2 separate regions of the Homo sapiens genome follow, and region 2 is linked to region 1. The links come from fine-mapping of genetic effects on gene expression. A gene starts in region 1. The other region holds a variant in brackets. All regions are shown on one strand. Distances are between the middles of the regions.

Region 1 (4,391 bases):
AGGAGATGCCTAAAGATGAAGAACAGCCCGGGATCCGTAAACAGACTCAGCTCGGTGTCTTCTCGCACCTTCTCAGAATCAAGTTTCCAAAATGAGGGTCATCCGCCTGCCTTGGAATTTGGGTTGGGAAGTGGATGGAGTTCCTGGACACATGCTCTAGGCCCTGACCAGTCTGGCCACTGCTCACTAGGAATTCTGTTGGGAGGGTGTACAACAGATTTTCCAACTGGTCTACAGCGAGCATCGGTAGTTTCCCTATGGAGAAAATGATTTTCTTTCTGGGAATCCCCCTATAGCCTGAAGGCTTTGCCTCATTTCCCATAGCTCCTCTCCGGTGTACCCCTTCGGTTCGCACTTTCCTACCTTCTTCCCAGTCCACTGGCTTCTCCTTCTTTATCTTCCTCAGTGTCCCTTCTCACAACCTCCCTGCTACCACACCAGATTCTGAAGGGGAGGAGTTGTCTGGAAAGACCAGAGCTGGGTGCTGGGGATCTGGAGCAGCTCGGGACCCGCGCTGCAGGGAGCTGGGATGGGAGAGGTGAGGGAGAGGAGGATGGGACTCTGGGAGAAAGAGAGGGGGCTGGGCTGGCGCTGGGGATGGAAGAGGCGAGGTGAACGCACTCAAGCGGTTACCTGCAGACAGGGAGAGACAGTGGCAAATACCTGCCTTCAATTAAACGCATATCAATTTGTGTGTGGGGTCAGTACTGCACATCATCAAGCCTCTTGGGTATAAAACCTTCCTACTGGAACTCTCCAGCCCCGCCCCCACCACCCCACGCGCGGCTCCCTGCTTTCTCTTGCTTTGGGGTGAGGCTGGGGATGTGGGTGGCTCCAGAGTTCCCTGCCCGCAGTTTAGGGGCGAAGTGATCGGTGTGTGCGCGCTGGGCACTCTGCGGGTTAAAAAGGTTTAGCAGAAAGGGATGCAGATGGAGGCGGGAAGCCAGGCTAAGAAAGGGATACCGACCTCCCTCCTCGGGTCGGAGGTGTGAACTGGGAAGCACTGCGCAGACCTGAGCGAGGTGGCCTGAATCCAGGGGCCGGGCAAGGGGGTGGTGTGAATAGAAATAGCACATTTCCCAGGCTTTCAGCCCCGGTACTCTGCCATCCTTCCAGTTCCATGCACTCAGCCAGGTCTCCAGGCTGGAGCAAGGGCTGGGGGTCAATGGGTCCTTCCTTCTCTCGGGAAACGTTCTTCTGGCGCGAAGCTGGGCGGAGGGAGAGTCGGACATTTTCCTCTGCTTCTCTCAGGGCAGCTGGCGTGGCCACCTCGCAAGGCTGCTTCTAGGGACACGAGACTCGGGAGGGTCAGAGACTTTCAGGCCGGGCCTTCACTCCCTTCCCCGGGGCACTTGGGCAAGAGTTCCAGCTCTTGGCTACCTCTGGCCCGCGCGTGAGTTCAGACACCCAGCACACGCGACCCCCGCAGGGAAACCCCGGGAAGCTGCGCGCAATCGCTGGGGACTCGCCAGGGCTCCACTTCCCAAGCTCCGCGCCCCCTGCGCCCAAAGAGGCAGGGCGGAGCAGAGGCCGCCGGCGTGGAGGAGGCGAGCGCGGGGCTGGCCCGGGAGCCGCCCCCGGGGAGGGACTGAGACCTGCCCCAGGAGTCGAGGGCGAGCGGCGGACCCGGCTGGGCCCGGCGCACGCCGAGGAGAGGGAGCCCCCGCCACCGCCGCTGCCTCCGCGTGCTCAGCCTGTCCCCGCCCAGGGAGCCGGAGCCTCCAACTAACTCCGCCCGCCGCTCCGCCGCCCGCAGGCTCCGGCTTCCGTCCCGGACAGAGCCCGTGGTCGCGCAGGTTGGTGTTGTTGCCGCTGCTGCCGCCACTGCGAGGCGGTCAGGGCAAGGGTGAGGGTGGGGGCGCGGAAGGGGGCCTGGGCTCGGGATCCTGCTGCCACCAATTCCTGGTGCCCCAGGAGGTTGTTGCTTTTTCTCCCGGGCTGCCCGGGTCGGGGGTGGGGGGATGGGGCGGGGATCCAGCGATGCGGCCAGGGAGGATTTTGGGGACTGAGCTATTCTCGCATTTCCCAAACCTCTCTCACGACCCTTCATCACCATTATTAAGTCCCTGGCCAGTTTGTGAGGGGTCGTCCTCCCCTCCGGTCCTTCTCACCTCCGCACTTCTCCTTGTGCCCTCTCCCTAGGGGGTACAATTTGTTCATTCGCCTTTTCTGCCCCCAACTTGGAGAACTCTCCGTGACGCCTAGAAAGCCTCCTCGGTTCTCCGCCCGCCCTTCAGTCTAGTTTGGGGAAGTAGAGGCCGCCGCGGAGTAGCAACCTGGGGTGTGGAGTGGGGGCGAGTGCCGGGAAGCAGTGGAAATTCCTTCCCCTCTTTCTTTCCCGTCCTTGCCCAGCTTTGCTCTCTTCCTGCCGTTTTGCCAGCCTCCGAATGTAATACGCGGGCGAAGGGCGATCTCCAAGGCAGAATGGGAAGTATCCACCACTTGGGATACTAGTTAAGTCTAGGTTCAGTCACCTTCCCAGCTCTGTGGCCTTGGGACCCGCCCCATCGGAACCTGTATGTTGTCATCTGCAAAATATGCGTCAGCTCTGCCTGCCGCTGAGGGTAGTTGTGGGGCTCCCTTGGGATGACTTAGGGTATTACGTGATTTTGAGCACGGTCTCTTGTCTCGTGCAGCTGCCTGATGGCAGGTCCTGTGTTCTGATCGTCTGAGTTCAGGTCCTTTGGCTGAGATGTGATTATCTCTCTGGGTGATTTGGTCAGTAGCTTTGCGGGGCTAAAAGGCATGTGTTCCTGGAGCTGGTCATTGGGGTTCAGAGTTGAAATCGTGTCGTCCCCACCAATCCCTGTGTACAAAGCTATGGACCTTACATCCTGTGCCTTTGTGGTCATAGAAATTCAAGTAGAAGGAAGATCTTATTGGACTTTGTTTGCTTCAGATGTTTTACATTCTTTACAATCGCTTTTCTCTTCTAGGTGCAAACTTAAATTTACTGCTAATTCTAATAATCCAGGAAGGATACTTTCATTTTAGTAAAATCAGACATTTAGCTCAAATAACATGTGACATATTGTTTGTAAATTTTCAGTTTATAATCACAGGCACAAAAAAGCATAGTTCATGCCATTCTAGTTACTTTATAAAGCAAGTAAATGGCCTAAAAAATCAGCTTTACAGGAAGTCAGGGCTGCAGTGAACTGTGTTTATACCACTGCACTCCAGCCTCGGTGACAGAGCAAGACCCTGTCTCAAAAATAAATAATCAGCTTTAGAATTGATATTAAATGGTAAGCCCTGTCGTTCCTGCATTCCTGACTTAATAGGCATTTTCATTCCGCGATGCACTCTGCTATATGCTTTAAAGATATAAAGATATAGAGTATGTTCCTTGTCCTGAAGGGCCTTCCAAGGTAACTTAAAGACTATGTAGTTTTATTTCATATTTTTATATGAACAGTCTTCTAATGACTATACATGGCAAGTAGAATGAGGTCAAGAATGCATTATCAAAGGCCCTTTAAGATCATCATTTGGCCGGCTGCGGTGGCTCACGCCTGTAATCCCAGCACTTTGGGAGGCCGAGGCGGGCAAATCACAAGGTCAGAAGTTCCGTACCAGCCTGGCCGACATGGTGAAATCCCATCTCTACTAAAAATACAAAAAATTACTTGGGCATAGTGGCAGGCACCTGTAATCCCAGCTACTTGGGAGACTGAGGCAGGAGAATCGCTTGAACCTGGGAGGTGGAGGTTTCAGTGAGCTGAGATCACTCCACACACTCCAGCCCTGGTGACAGAGTGAGACTCTCTCAAAAAAAGATAAAACTAAATAAATAAATAGATAAAAAATCATTTGGTGAGTTTGCATAATTGGAAGAAATAACAAGTTTGTTAAGACATTGCTTTCTAAAATAAAATGCCATGTGCTCCTACTTCATCAAGGTGCACTTGGAAATAAAATGAATTCTGTGTTTTTAGAATGAAAGCTTAGGAAAACATTCTACACATGTATGATGTGCTAATCAAATGTTAAAAGCTATAGAAATTTTAATTCTAACTTCCTTCAACTGTATGTTGTGGTTCCCACATACAGTTTTTTTCTCAACTCCTTGAGGAAGGAAATTATAATGCCTAGAAAAAATATACAGAGATTTAATGTAAGATTTTTAATAAGCTGGACCTTAAGGCCTGGTGGGTCCTGAAGTGACTCTGGAAATTTGACTTTAAAAGTTACGAGACTTGGTGAGACTGAGTGTGGTGGCTCATGCCTGTAATCCCAACACTTTGAGAGGCTGAGGCGGGAGTATTGCTTGAGTTCAGGAGTTTGAAACCAGCAACATAGTGAGACCTTCTCTCTACAAAAAATATTAAAAGAAAAAAAAAGCCAGGTGTGGTGGTGCACGCCGGTAGTCCCAGCTACTCAAGAGGCTG
Region 2 (4,391 bases), 30 kb after region 1:
TCTCAGTACAATTTTAGGAACGAATATATATGAAGACCAAAGATCTAGAAATTAATTCTCTTTAAACTACCTCTGTGCCAGTTTGCATACTGGAATGTCTTTGAGTATCCCTTGGGATGTGCATGCAGCAGTATGAGGGCCACTTAACTAGAATGGAAAAGGGGAAGATGAATAGAACCCAGCGCCTGCCGTCAGGGAGCATACCAGCTGGAGGGTGACAGCCTCAGGAAGACCTAATTGTAGAACACTTGAATGGTTTCCCTCTCCTCTTGGATCAAGTTCAAAATTCTTCATGATCTACCCCCATCTTTTTTTTTTTGAGGTGGAGTCTCGCTCTGTCACCCAGGCTGGAGTGCAGTGGCGCAATCTCGGCTCACTGCAAGCTCCGCCTCCAGGGTTCACGCCATTCTGCCTCAGCCTCCCAAGTAGCTGGGACTAAAGGCGCCCGCCACCACGCCCAGCTAATATTTTGCATTTTTAGTAGAGATGGGGTTTCACCGTGTTAGCCAGTATGTTCTCGATCTCCTGACCTTGTGATCCGCCCGCCTCAGACTCCCAAAGTGCTGGGATTACAGGCGTGAGCCACCGCGCCCGGCTGATCTACCCCCATCTTTCTCTCTGTTCTTACCTGGTGCTCCTCTTCTCCCTGTGTAACCTCTAAGCTCCAATCATACCAGCCTTTCTGTCCCTAGCACACCTAAGCTGCTCCTGCCTATGTGCTATTGGGTCAAGCTGTTTTGGTGGGCTAGAATGCGCTTTTCAGTTTCCCCCCTTGCACCCACACACCTTAGATTTCAGGTTTCCTTGGCACCGTAAGCTTGGAAAAATTTAGGTATCACTGTTGTAAGCTCTCATATGACCCTGTCCTCCTCCTTGTACAGTACTTATTACAAAAGTCACTAACGTTTGGTATTCATTACCTTAAACTCTGATTACTTTTGTGCTGTTCACTTTCTGAGGACAGGTACCATCTCTGTCTTATCTAACCAGATATTCCCAGCAGAGAATGTAGCCTCTTCCATATTAAGGGTGAGTCATACATATATGTAGAATTGAATTAAAAATATACTCAACGTATTTGTTGAATTGAATTGATGTTAACATTTATGTGAAACATGACTTTGTGTCAGTCACTGGCGGGCATTTACTATATATTATCTCATTTAATTCACACAAAATCATTTGGGAATACATGCTTTTAGATAGGCAAACTTTATTATTGTTGTTATTCGTTTACTAGGAATTTTTAGGCAAAGCAAGTGCATAAACACCAGGTGAGTGGTCTTAAATGCCATGTTAAGGATTTGGAACTTTTTACTAAACACCAGTGATTCTCCATACTTTAGGAAATCAGAATCACCTGGAGGATTAAAAACAACAAAAAAGCAATGCCCGCATATAATTGGTTTAGGATTCAGCAAGTCATTTTATAAAACTTCCCCAAATAGACTTTTTTGTTGTTGTTCTTTGTTTTTTTATACTTTAAGTTCTGGGATTCATGTGCAGAACATGCAGGTTTGTTACATAGGTATCCCAAGTAGTTTTAATGCACAGCACTGATTGGGACACTAAAAAGTAGTGATGCTAGCCCAGCAGCATTAACACCACCTGTGAACTAGTAAGAAATGCAGATATCTGGGCCCCTTCCCAGTTTCACTTAATAAGAAAAGGGAGGGGGGAGTCCCCAGCAATCTGTATCTTAGCAAGCCTTTCAAATGAATCTCATGCCCTTTAAAGTTTGAGAACCTCTGTTATAAACAATTGGAAACTTAAAAAGCTTTGTACTTTTGTGTTTTACAAAAGAACTTTGGTAGATACGTGGGAGACTGAATAAATAAGGGACAAACCAGAGGGTAAGGCAACCTGTTAGAGCTGTTACCTTTAGAAGTATCATGTGGAGGTAAGAAGATGGCAATAAGAACTAGAGTGGTGGTTATAGGAAGGAAGGAAGGTGGTGGGATCAGGAGATGTTTCAAAAACAGAAATGGTGAAATATGGTGACTGATTGGCTTGAAGAGGTTGAGGGAGAGAGTGAGGTCAAAGAAAATATAATTTCTTTCTGAGTTAGTTAAGTGACATCATGAAACAAGGCAGAAATGTGTTTAGAAAGTGTAAGTTGGGGGAAACCATAAAAGTATTGAATATAAGGTGTCTTCAAGCATCTAGTAAGAGATGTTTTTGTCTCGTTGGAAATTTGGTTTCTGGAACTTTGGAAACAAATGGGGAGTAAGGAGTGGTGTTGGAAGTTCTCACCATTGTATTTAACTTTTTAAAAATCATTCATTCAAGTGGTTATATATGTACTAAATTATTTTTTTAACATGTTCGTTTTATTTCAAATTGAGCCAAAGATGTTGAACTTTACACAAACTATAATCTCTTACATTGGATCATTTATATGAAGTTATTTTTAATAATTATTAGAATTTATGGAATATGTTAGCAGAATTATGGTAAAGCAAAGTTTGCATTTTGTAAATTTACTGTTCCATTCTTGGGTCAAGTGTACAGTGAACACATTCATTTTCAGAGAAAGAACTGAGAGGACACAAGCAAGAATACATTTCACATTTCAGCTGTTAAAGGAGGCAATTTTGTGTCATGTAAGCTCACAGATCCTGGAGCCAGACTGAGCTCTGTCCACATGTAGAAGGTGTGACTTTGAACAGACGTTACTTAAACTCTGAGCGTCTTCATTTCCTAATATGCAAAATGGAGAAATTAGTATTATTCATCTCAGGCTTTTTGTAAGCATTGAATGAGTTAAAACCTGTAAAAGTACTTTGAATAGCGCCTAGAATTTAATTCG[T/C]AATCATTAGTGTAAGCTCTTATTAATATCAATTTTTTATTCTCTACTTAGTCTTATTTTCTAAATCGTTGCTATTAACAGTTTCTGAGTTTTTTAATGTGGTTTCTGTTAGTTTTATGAACTGCTGAACATCAAAGGGAATGATTATAAACTAGTGATTTCTAGGAATTAAATTTTGAACCATTCATGGAGAAAATGGAGAAAGGCATCACAAATGTAGTATAATTTCTAAATAAATAGCAACTAAAAATTACTTTCCAAGTTAGACACATGCCATTTTTTAGGTCAAAGTTGCGGGTCAGAAAGGTACTGGGCTCCAGATTCTTCACAGCTTGAAATCTTACTTCATTCATCATTCTGAGCATAGTCAGTAGCAAATCAATAATTTACTTGAAAAGAAACAAGTAACTTACTACTCTTTTGATATGTGGTATAGAGGTCAAGAATATATCTTAAAAACTCTATATCAAAAGTTATAAATAAGATAACTACCAAGCAAAGGCTGATTATAATTAATAATAATAATGATAAATCCCAGCAGATATATTTGACCCCTGTAATGAGAAGAAGGTAACACCTCTGGAAGCAGAAAAAAATCTTACTCTCCCATCTGAGATTTGTAAATTAAGGCTGTTCATTACTGCTGTTGAATTATAATGATCTGAATTTCACTTAAAATCTCTTAATTTAGAAATCATTATGCTGGTGGAAAGGCCAAGGAGAAATGCTTCATCCTTAGCATTTTATTTATCCTCCTCAAAATAGTTTTACCATCCTTATTTTTCAATCTATTTCAAGTGGGGTTGGGAGCTGGCAGAAGAAGAATAGATGTAGTTCTTGGTATTTGCATCTCTAGGTCCCGCCAGACCCACACAGCTCTTCTGACTTGAGCATGTTCCAGCCATGTTCTAAATGTAGCTACCATTATCCCGTGCTGTCTAGAGTTCTTATGTTCTGGGACCTGAGACATATTTTCTGTACCTTTCACTAAGCACAGGAAATCTATCCCAACTATGGGGACAGATCTGTCCCAACTGTGGGGACAAAACTGCCTCCTTTAACAGCTAAAATGTGAATGTAAATTTTTCTATACCTTTCACTAAGCCCAGGAAATCTGTGCCCAATTATGGGGACAGATTTCCTGGGCTTAGTGAAAGGTACAGAAAATAGGCTACTGTATGGTCTAAATGCCTAAACTCAGCTTGAACAAGACCCCAGTCAGCTTCACTCCTGGAAGAAAACTATTGTGCAGCTCTTAGCAAGGAAATTTGTATTTGATACTTCCTAGGGGACCCGTAGTTCCTTCAGAGTTACGAATCCCTTGGTGAGTGAATGGAAAATCCAACCAATTATAGAGCATTTCAGAGAAAAAAATGTTGGCTATTCTCAGGAAATGTTGGGTATTTCCAGTATTCATATCTCCCATCTATGGAACTGGAGTTCTCTAAGCCATTATAGTGAGTCTCTGGCTTGGGATTTATTAAATTATTCATGTATGGTAGATATTTCCAGGTTGCTGCTATCATTATTGGCAAATTTGGCAAAATAGATCAATTTGCTTTTGATTTAAGAACTAAAATAG

What was found.
Region 2: its variant is fine-mapped to the expression of PAM in whole blood (INTERVAL, PIP 0.98).

Annotation. Positions count from the first base shown.
Region 1 is chr5:102,753,553-102,757,943 of GRCh38, forward strand. It overlaps PAM (peptidylglycine alpha-amidating monooxygenase), which reads left to right and starts at 1,753. Exons shown (of 26, transcript NM_001177306.2): 1 at 1,753-1,796. RefSeq lists enhancers at 782-1,307, 2,315-2,815, 2,387-2,476 and a silencer at 1,447-1,996.
Region 2 is chr5:102,783,596-102,787,986 of GRCh38, forward strand. All of the region lies in intron 1 of PAM (peptidylglycine alpha-amidating monooxygenase), which reads left to right. Among named protein-coding and RNA genes, the nearest start is that of PAM, 30 kb to the left of the region's middle. The variant T/C (reference allele first, on the strand shown) is at 2,810.